Homo sapiens: one gene and its partners. The protein of the gene in region 3 purifies or fractionates together with the protein of the main gene of each other region. This does not show direct contact. Each region holds a gene or a part of one and is shown on either strand. Other genes may lie near its edges. The genes, in order: WIPF2, WIPF3 and WAC.

Evidence for each region.
Region 1: the proteins of WAC (region 3) and WIPF2 purify together in Homo sapiens (affinity purification with mass spectrometry, with the first as the bait; one large-scale study listed by BioGRID). This does not show direct contact.
Region 2: the proteins of WAC (region 3) and WIPF3 purify together in Homo sapiens (affinity purification with mass spectrometry, with the first as the bait; one large-scale study listed by BioGRID). This does not show direct contact.

The regions. Positions count from the first base shown.
Region 1 is NC_000017.11:40,264,235-40,267,886, reverse strand, and holds part of WIPF2 (WAS/WASL-interacting protein family member 2), read right to left. Parts: intron 3,398-3,652; coding exon 2,741-3,397; intron 1-2,740. UniProt on the Homo sapiens protein: Plays an active role in the formation of cell surface protrusions downstream of activated PDGFB receptors. Plays an important role in actin-microspike formation through cooperation with WASL.
Region 2 is NC_000007.14:29,882,958-29,886,609, reverse strand, and holds part of WIPF3 (WAS/WASL-interacting protein family member 3), read right to left. Parts: intron 2,761-3,652; coding exon 2,017-2,760; intron 1-2,016. UniProt on the Homo sapiens protein: May be a regulator of cytoskeletal organization. May have a role in spermatogenesis.
Region 3 is NC_000010.11:28,613,064-28,616,715, forward strand, and holds part of WAC (WW domain-containing adapter protein with coiled-coil), read left to right. Parts: intron 1-1,503; coding exon 1,504-1,622; intron 1,623-3,109; coding exon 3,110-3,299; intron 3,300-3,652.

The DNA of each region.
Region 1 (3,652 bases), on a different chromosome or scaffold from region 3:
AAGGCGTGAGCCATCATGCCCAGACTCCATGACATAACTCCTTAATCAATGTTCTATACCTGTAGAAACTGACTTTAAAATAAAAGCTAAGGGCTGGGCGCAGTGGCTCACTTGAGGTCAGGAGTTTGAGACCAGCCTGGCCAACACGGCGAAAACCCGTTTCTACTAAAAATACAAAAATTAGCCAGATATGGTGGCACATGCCTGTAATTCCAGCTAGTCAGGAGGCTGAGACACAACAATCACTTGAACCTGGGAGGAAGAGGTTGCAATGAGCAGAGATTGCACCACTGCACTCCAGCCTGGGCGAAAGAGCAAGGCTCTGTCTCAAAACACAAACAAACAAATAAATAAATAAAGGCCAAGAAGCTGTTTGTGGAGGGTATGTCTCAAAGTCTAATGATACAACGATATGGGAGCCAAAATTCCCATGTCCAATAAGGCCCCAGAGAGCTGTCACGGTCTCCCTCACTCTAAAATTTCAGTTATGCTAATTATAACGAGATTACACAACCTCTTCTTTTTCCAGGGTTCCTAAATTCCCTCCTCACCCAGCTTAGGCTCCATTATTGCAATCACTCCCTCACATACACCCTTCCCTTCCTGCCCCACTCTCCCTTAGAGTCGCACATGCCTAAAACATGCTAACGCTGGTTAAACACAGCTCTACTCTTTTTCTGTACCTGCAAATCACAACTGAACACATGAGACTAATTAATCTCACATGAAATGTATGGCCCATAATCTCAAGTGGGCCCTTCGCGTGGTTGCCTATCTGAGCACACTTCCCTAGTCCACCCACACTCCCACGCTCCAGATGACCATTTCATGCCTCTTCTCTCTCCTCAACTCTCCTTCTCCTTCCCTCGCCTCAATCACAGCTGATGCTCTTGCTTTCCATTTCACTGAGAAAACAGAAGCAAATTAGAATAAACTTTCCACATGCTTCTACCACTACACCCACCTACCCACTTGCTTCTAAGCCTATATGCTCTGCCTCCCCTCTTGTTACTATGGAAGAACTATGTTCCTATCTAAGGCCAACCCTTTTTATCTATCGATCACATTCTCTTTTCTCTGGCCTCCTCCAGGTCATTATTCAGGCAATCTGTTCCCTCTCTTCTGATTCAATTTTTTCCCTCTCTCCTAAGTTTCATGCTACTCATTCCATCAGCATACAAATAGGTCTCCCATCTTGGGATGGGAAAAAAACAACTCTCAACCCCACATCTTCGTCCAACAATCACTTCACTTATCTTCACCCCTCTCTCCTGGACTTTACAGCGAACTCTTTAAGAGATTTCTATATTGCTATCTCCAATTTCTCTCCTCCTATTCCTGCATTCTTGAACCCACTCCAATTAAGCTTTCACTTTCACCCTCCACCACTCCACTGAAACTACTCAAAAGGGTCCCATGATACTAAGACCAATGCCAGTTCTTGGTCTTTAACTTACCTGACCCATCTGCAGCACTGGGCACAGCTGACCACTTACTCTACCTTGGAGTTTTTCCATCACATTCTTGGTTTTTCTCCTTCCATCCTCACTAGAAGCTTTTCTGTTTCCTCTGCTGGGTATTCTTCATCTCTTTTGCCTCTAATGTAGGAGGGCGAGGGCTCAGCCCTCATTTTTTTTTTTTTTTTTTTTGAGATGGACTGTCACTCTGTCGCCCAGGCTGGAGTGCAGTGGCGTGATCTCGGCTCACTGCAACCTCTGCCTCCTGAGTTCAAGCGATTCTCCTGCCTCAGCCTCCTAGGCCTCTTCTTATCTATATTCACTCCTTAGGTGACTTCATCCAGCATGTGGTTTTCAACACCATTCAAATGTATCTCTCTAGCCGAAACCTCTCCCCTCAACTTTGGAGTCTGATAGCCAATTACCAATTCATTGTCTCTTCTTGATTACCTAACAGGCATCTCAAACTTGTCTCAAACTGAACACCTATCTTCCCACAAATTCACAGTAGTCCTAACCATCTGGCCGTTTACTGCAACAGCCCAGTAACTGGTCTCCTTTTGTCACCTTTGTCCTCCTGCGGTCTGTTCTCAACATAGGAGTTAATGATCTTTTTAAAAGGTGAATCAAATCATACTACTTCTCTGTTTAAAACCCTCCAGTGGCTTCCCATCTCACACAGTTAAATCCAAGGTCTTTGCAAAATCCTGCAGTGCGCTCTCCCCTGCAGCTCCAGCTTTCCAACCTCCAAGTCCTACCACTCTTCCCTCCCCTCACTCTTTGTAGTCTTGCCACAATGGCCCCCTTGCTGTCCCCAAAATGTTTCAAGAATACTTCTGCCTTATGGCCTCTGCATTTGTTGTTCCCACTGCCTGCAACAGCTGTTCTCCTAGATAACTACTAAGCTTACTCGTCACTTTCTTAAGGTCTTTGTCAAATTTTCACCGTATCAGTAAGGACTGTCCTGACTCTCTCCCCACTCCTCCAATTAAAGATATCATCATCCCGACCTCCGCCCCAGTATATCTTATTCCTCTCCTCTGCTTTGTAATTCTCTAAAGCATACTGCATACTATGTATTTATATATTTTACTAGTTTGACTGTCAAATTTTTTTGTCTTTTCTATTTATTGCTATTTCCCTACCAACAGACCTGACACATAAAAAGGTACTCAATAAACCCACTGAGTGAATAAACGAATTACTGTCTTCAAGGAGTGCTCTGGGGAAAGATAAAATCAACTCACAGCATGATAGGGAAAAAGGTGCTTCCAAGCACTTACCTGCTCCCCGACTGGGAGGGTCTCGGGCTGGGGGAGGTGGCCTATTACTCAGTAAAGATGGGGAGGCCGAGGTGGGTGGAGGAGGTGCTAGGCCTCTGACAGGCCCTGGTGTCTTCCTATGCAAAGAATTGTGTCTCTGTGGCAGCTCAGGGGCTGACTCATTAGTGGGGCTAGAGGGTCCATTGGGGACCCCAGGAGGCTGGCGGTAAGGCGGAGGAGGAGGAGCCAGAGACTGGCCACTTGGTCCTGTTCTGATATTCACAGGGGAAGGAGGTGGTTTGACTGGGGGTGGAGCAGGAGGTCCCTCTCGACCAGGGTGAAGCCTTTGTCCAGGCGTCGGTGGCAAGGGTTTCTCTCTGTTGTAGGCGGGGGCTTTGCTGCTGTGCATAGGCAGAGGTGTGGGGGGTGCGTTGGCACGCCGCCCTGGGGGTGGTGGGGGAGGGGCAGAGGAGCTGTGCTTCATGCCCGTACTGCTGGTGGTATTAGGCCGAGAGAGGTCCGGTAAAGAGGGTCTCTGCATCCGGGGCAGTTCTGGGAGTGAGGCCCGGCTGCTGTCTGTATCATCCTGAGGACGCCCGCTGGCGGCAGATACTGGAGGCCTTGGGGCAGCAGCTCGAGAACTGGGGATTTGCAGGGCTGGCTTACCAGCTAGGTTCTCTACAAATACATAGACAACACAGGGTCAACAGAGCTGGACAGATATTGGTCAGTATCCCTACTTCACTCGGCTCCTTAGTGCAACCTGCATGGCAGCAGGGAAAGGAATTGAATAATTCTGGGTTTTTTGTTTTTCTTTTTTTTTTTTTTTTTTTTTTTTTTTGAGACGAAGTTTCGCTGTTGTTGCCTAGGCTGGAGTGCAATGGTGCAATCTCAGCTCACTGCAACCTCTGGGTTCAAGTGATTCTCCTGCCT
Region 2 (3,652 bases), on a different chromosome or scaffold from region 3:
TGAGGTGGGCTGATCACTTGAAGTCAGGAGTTCGAGACCAGCCTGGCCAACATGGGGAAACCCTGTCTCTACTAAAAATACAAAAATTAGCCAGGTGTGGTGGTGCACGCCTGTAACCTCAGCTACTCGGAAGGTTGAGGCACAAGAATCACTTGAACCTGGGAGGCGAAGGTTGCAGTGAGCTGAGATCCTGCCACTGCACTCCAGCCTAGATGGCAGAGTGAAACTGTGTCTCAAAAAAAAAAAAAAAAAAAAAAAAAAAGCTTTGTCTTTTTCATCACATCATAAATAGATGAAAATAACAAATATCAGAAGGGGCTTATCAGCCCAAATGCTGGCCCTCATGGTGACCAGTCAATTGAAAAGAGAATGATTAAAACCTTACCTCTTGTAATCAAGAGGCTTAAAAATATCTTTGCTCTTTGCACCAGGAATTCCCTTTAAGACACCAATACTTTTAGAAAAATATCAAAAACGTGGATTAAAATTTCTACAAAAGTATTTCTTAAAATATTACTCATAATAACAAAAAATGGAATCAACTTAGATATCTAACATGAGGAATATGGAATATATTGTCATGCTTATAAAGACATTTTAACAATTTGATAAAATTGTTTTTAACATAATGTTAAATAAAACACAGAACACAAAACTGTATGTGAAAAATGGTATTAACCATGTAAACGTGTACATATATTCAGAAAAAAGAATTGAAGAAACCTATCCAAATGGCAGTTTTCATCTCTGGGTGATGTTATTATGGGTGATTGAATTACTTAATTTACTCAGAGACAGCAGCATCTGGCTCTGTCATCCAATCTGGAGTACAATGGCACAATCATAGCTCCCCACAGCCTTGAACACCTAGATTCAAACGATCCTCCTGCCTTAGCCTCCCAAGTAGCTGGGACTATAGTTGTCTGCCACCATGCCCAGCCAATTTTTTATTTTTATTTTCTGTAGAGATGGGGTTTCGCTGTGTTACCCAGGCTGGCCTAGAACTCCTGACCTCAAGCCATCTTCATGCATGGGCCTCCCAAAGCAGTGGGATTACCGGTGTGAGCCATCCGTACCTGGCCAGTTTGAATTTCCGTCTATTAGCTCTGCAACAAGCTTGCGTTATTTTTAAGTCAAGAAAATACTTTTAAGAAGCTTTCTGCATCAAAAGATTTTCTAAAAGACAAAGGAATATGTGTGTTGGGGGTGTGCATGTGGATGTGTGTGTTATGAGTGTGCATATGTTTGAGTGTGTCTGCCTGTGTGGATGTGGGTGTATCTGTGGACGTGTGGAGGTACTTTCCATTCACAGGGGCACTAAAACTGAATGAAGCCTCCTACTAGCGGGATCAAGGAAATCAGCCATGGGGCATGAACGCTCAATTCAAATAACCTGTGCTGCATATGTGAAGGAATTATTTTTAATATTTGGCTCAAAATACAGGCCCTCAGTTTTCTTGAGTCAGCCGGAGAACCTGCGAAAACTAAGGCAGAGTGGGAATCCAGTTTACTGAGGGCCGGCGAAGATTCTGGCTGGGATCCAGATAGGAAAACGCGGGCAAATATAAAAGGAGGCCTGGTTCTGGAAACAAGCCACACTCACGCCCCCTCCACCTCAGGGAGGAGATTGGGAGTTGGAAGGTTGGTAGTAAGAATAAATAATCCCTCTCAAGCTCACTGTTGCCCTGTTCCAAGCACCTCAAACCTAAGAACTCACTTAATCCTTAACAACAAACCCAGGAGGTAACAACTATTGCCATCTATCCCCATTTTACAGATGAATAGAAGGGAGAACAGAGAGGCCAAGTGGTCGCCCAGGGCCACAGAGCTAGTAAGGGCAGGGGATCAAGGCCGGGATCCCTTGCTTACATGCAGCATGATTTTGGGCAAGTCTCTCTGCCTCCCTCACCCCTGGTGTCCATCTCTGAAACGAATACCTCCAACAATAAAGTCCTGTGCAACGACGAGATTTTATCGCACTCCACCAGGGGCACTGGGCCAGGCAGCGCTCCTTACCTGGTCGGCCATGCCTCTTCTTCTGCAGGAACGGCTGGGAGCCCGGAGGGGCAGGCGGGGCGGGCAAGGCCTGCGCACCGGCCTTCTGCGGTGGGGCCTGGAAGCTGGGGGATTTAGGGGGTAGCGGGGGTGGAGTTTCACTGCTGCTATTAACTCCTGGCAAAGGGGGCGCGGGCAAAGAAGCCCTCGGGGAGCAAGAAGCATAAGGGGGGAGCGGGGGCGGCGGGGCGGGAGGCTCCTGCGCATCTTGCGCAGGGCTGGCGGGCTCCGCTTTGAGCCCCGGATACCCACAAGGTGGGAGCAGAGGGAGCGGGGGCGGGATGGGCGGGAGGTGCAAGGGAGCCAGCTGAGGCTTCACTGCCTTGTCACTAAGAACCGAGGCCGGGGGCAGCGGGGGTGGCGTTGGGGGAGGTGGCGGAGGTGGAGGTGGTGGCGCACAGGGGACGGGGGGTGCAACCACCGGGAGGTTCCCTTTGGTCAGTGGGCCGGGTGGGGACACAAGCGGAGTTTTGATGGGGGAGGAAGAGGGAAGGGGCGGGGGTAAGGGTGGAGGCGGAGGGGGTGGGGTGGGAGGGGGCGGGGCAGGCACGTTGGGGCGAGGCGGGGCTGTCCTGGCAGCGCCATGCGCCTCGGAGGTATTGCCTAGCCTGGGAGAGGCAGGCGGGATAAGCGGGCCGCTGATGGTTTTGTTGGGAAGCCTGGGAGAGGGCGCGCGGGAGCCAGGGCCCTGCCCTGTCTTGCCACCTGGAAGTGAAAGAGATTCTGGGTTAGCTCGGCAATAAAGAAGGAGAAAGCCCCCGCAGGTAGGCGGCACTCAGGACACTCAAGCCTGCCCGCAGTGAGCTGCACTGTAGACCGCTTTTTCTGCACGTGTCCACTGAGAGGCCTCAGGTGCCACAGCTGTCACCCAGAAGGACCAACTGGACCAGATCCAAAGTCCTTGCCAGCATTAATGACAAGCCCAGGTCAGGCCTCCAGCCCTCCTATCCATGCCACCTGTGCTGTCATCTGCCTTGGGCCTCTAGTATCCCAGCCAGGGCCAGGACTGCCCGGGTGTCTTTTGCCCTTCCTAATCAAGGCCACACTCACGAACTCATTCACTGACACCCGCTAGGTCCATCAGCCCTTATGCTCTAATTTGGACCCTCAGGTGTACCAACCAGCACTCCTGGCTAGGGAGGTTTTCTTCACTCCCAGCATTTTGTGAAATTTGACTTTCTTTGTTTCTGTGTTGAGAGCAGAAAATTCATGATTCCCTGAATACATAAGGTAAGACTGGAGGGAGACATTTGCCCTTGACAACCCAGGTCCAATGACCTTGAACCTCACAGTTCTATGACCTCTGGAAGTTCAAAACCTCCTTTCCCAAAGACTTATGCTAATTCCCAAGGGTTTTGGCTTTCTCATCCTATAGATCCTTCATTGCATCTGCCCCAGCTTGAAATTCAATTCCTCTTTTAAATTCAACAACAACCATTGGCTCTTGATAAGCATTTGCGTTTGGTTTTCATGGAAGACTCAGGTGGAGCACGTCCCCAGGAGGGGCCTCTATACTCCGCACAGCCTTGCACCTTTTTGCCAGTTCTCACCCTTTTTTCGCTCTGCCTCTCTCTAATAAGAAAAAGTTCCTCTCGTT
Region 3 (3,652 bases):
ATTAGGCCCTGGGCAATATAGCAAGACCCCATCTCTACAAAAATAATTTGAAAATTTGCTGGGGGAGGCCGAGGCAGGCAGATCACTTGAGGCCTAGAGTTTGAAACAAGCCTGGCCAACAGGCAAAACCCGGTCTCTACTAAAAGTACAAAAATTATCTGGGTGTGCTGGCACAGACCTATAATCCCAGCTACTCGGGCGGCTGAGGCATGAGAATCACTTGACCTGGGAAGTGGAGGTGCAGTTGAGCCAAGATCACGGCACTGCACTCCAGCCTGGGCAAGAGAGTGAAACTCTGAAAAACTTTCTTGGGCATGGTGATGTGCACTACTCAGGAGGCTGAGGTAGGAGAATCACCTGCGCCTGGGAATTCAAGGTTGGAGTGAGCCAAGATCACGTCACTCTGCACTTGAGAGTAGGCAACCAGACTAAGACCCTGTCTGGAAAAAAAAAATCCTTTAAGCAGGTAGCTGTTCGTTTTTTGTGTTCCAAAAACTTCTTCAAGTTGTTTTTAAAATAATTGAACATTTGAGCTTTTATGTAGTGCTTATAAAATGTTCTTTATAAGACTTGACTAGAATTGATAGGTAATATTCAGAAGTTAAGCAGGACATTCCAGATTTGTTAGGGAGAATTATTAATCATATCCCCTCACCCCACCAAAAGAAAAACAGCAGTGAGGTGTGACTTAATCACAAAGGACTCCATCTGCCTTTGTGCCTCAATTTAGAGCTTATATTTTAAACTGCTTTTCTCTATGTGGCTTCTGAATATAATACATATCCTGATTGGCAATCATGGACTTCAGTCTACCTCTGTAGAGTAACATCTCTTTGAAAAACTCTCATGTTGAACTTTATATGGGCCATAACTCATTTTCTGATAGCCCAATCACATATTTCTCCATATCATTAAAATCTAAGCATCCATATGTGTATGATGTGGTAGCATACATAATTTACTTTTATTGATATAAAAGTAACAGTAAATCAGAAGAGATAATAATGTATTGGAAAGAAAACTGAGCTGTAAAGGAGAACTAGTTACTTTTTTTTTTTTTGAGACGGAGTCTCGTTCTGTCGCCCAGGCGGGAGTGCTGTGGCGCGATCTCCGCTCACTGCAAGCTCCGCCTTCCGGGTTCACGCCATTCTCCTGCCTCAGCCTCCCGAGTAGCTGGGACTACAGGCGCCCGCCACTGCGCCCGGCTAATTTTTTGTATTTTTAGTAGAGACGGGGTTTCACCGTGGTCTCGATCTCCTGACCTCGTGATCCGCCCGCCTCGGCCTCCCAAAGTGCTGGGATTACAGGCGTGAGCCACCGCGCCCAGCCCTAGTTTGATAGGGAAGTAATTTTATGACCTTGGGCCATTTTCACAAAGAAATGAGATCTAAGTTTCAGAACTTGACTGCCACATTTTACATGTTTCAAGACGATTACCTAGATTTTGGGGGGAGAGATGTGGATTAGATTTGGAGACCATCTCACCAGATTTTGACATTTCAGGTTAGTACTCCAGTAGTTAAGCAAGGACCAGTGTCACAGTCAGCCACACAGCAGCCTGTAACTGCTGACAAGCAGCAAGGTCATGAACCTGTCTCTCCTCGAAGTCTTCAGCGCTCAAGGTAGGTTGATATTGTATATTGAGACCACATTGTTTTATTTAATGATGGTACACTGCATTGTTTGAATATTATATCTGTAAAATAGAACTTAACCTTTAAACTCCATGAATACCCTAAAGTAGGCTTACATGTTGTAAAATTTACAAAGACAAACCTGTATACAAGAGGTAGGTTATTGTCTCTAGTAGTGAAGCCCGGGTTATTTTGAAGAAAGTGGCTCTTTAAAATTTTACACAGTGGAATATGACGGGGCTAAAGATTTGTGATACTTGTACCAGAAAGGCACACGATTTTACAATATTTGTTGGAATTACCTTACTTTTTAACCTCCTCATAGCAGTTTTGGTTTGAGTATATTGATGAAAGCCAAAGTCTGGTATCTAAAACTTGGGCCAATGTTTCCCAACTGGTATATGTCAGGCTTTCCCAATAGCTTAACTGTGACCCTATACGGATGGCTTTTTAGATAGTTCTATACTGCTGTATTGTGTTAGCACTTTTCTTTGTTCATTAACAACACAACTTTAAATGACATTTGTTGAATGAATGGTTTTCATTTGATTGATTTTCCTGTTTTTTATTTCATGCTATGAGGTAGCAAAATAATTCAACTGTTGTTTTTATTGTTGTTTTCTAAACAAGCATTTCAGAACTTACACCTCCAAATGAGAGTTGTTCCCTTCAAAATAATGACCTTGGGAAGCTGTCTACTTACTCCAGCAATGTTGCCATTGCTCTGAACATTTTTGGGAAATTCTTCTTTTAAATTGTTTTTAGAGGCTGCAGTATTATTTTAAATATCCTCAGTGATGAAAACTCTTCATCCTTTGGGAGATTTAGTTTTTGGAAATAACTGAAATTCATTCAGAGCCAAGTCTGGTGAAGCAGGTAGGAGATCAACTTGGGTGATTAAATTTTTTGGTTCTCACCACCATATCCCCAACCCTGGCCCAAACCATTCAGTTTTAAAAGAAGATAAAGAATCTCAGAGTGTTATTTTTTTGGTTTTGTTTTGCCACTGTGCTTGTTCAGTGCTATCCAATAAAATGTCTGTATTTTGCTTCACATTATTTCACCCTCTGATTCAGCAGTTCTGACGTTGAACAAAGGCAATATATATTTTCCCCTTATCTAGATGTGTATGAGCAGTCTTCAGATGTGCATCTACAGCTGTTAAAATGTGACTTTTTTTAGTTATATTATTAGTGTTTGTGGTACACAAAGTTAACAGGTTCTGCTCTCAGATTTGGAGAGTAGTTTACATTTGACTCTGACAGTAGTGTTAAAAGGGTTTTTTCCCCCTAAAGTGTTTTGAGGAATCATATACTTTGGATTATTAATTCTCTTTATTTGACATTAAAATAACAAATTTTTCTTAGGAATTTGGATATCTTTAAGTTAATAAAAGGTATTAACATGCAGTTTCTAGGATAAGGATACCCAGAAACTACTTTTAAACATACTACACATTCAATTCTGTTTTCTAGTAGCCAGAGAAGTCCATCACCTGGTCCCAATCATACTTCTAATAGTAGTAATGCATCAAATGCAACAGTTGTACCACAGAATTCTTCTGCCCGATCCACGTGTTCATTAACGCCTGCACTAGCAGCACACTTCAGTGAAAATCTCATAAAACACGTTCAAGGATGGCCTGCAGATCATGCAGAGAAGCAGGTATGTTATGTACAGCCTAGATTTTACCTTTGGATGATTAGCAAAACAGAATTTAATCAACTTCTAGAGAATCTAATGTGACCACTGAATTCAAGCAATATTTAAAATAATGAATCTCTAACTTTGTAGTCATTTAAAAAATATTTGATATATAAGATAACTTTTCTGGTTTTACAAAATATTTTAACATAATTATAGGCACTGTTGTCAAGTACTCAGCAGTTAGCTCAGTGCTTAATGCCTTATATTTATTTTCTCTACTTCTTAAAACAGCTAAGCAGTGTAGATAGAGTTGAAGTCCTTAAGACCAAATAGTGCATAAGACCTTGATCCCAGGGTCACCCAGTTAACAG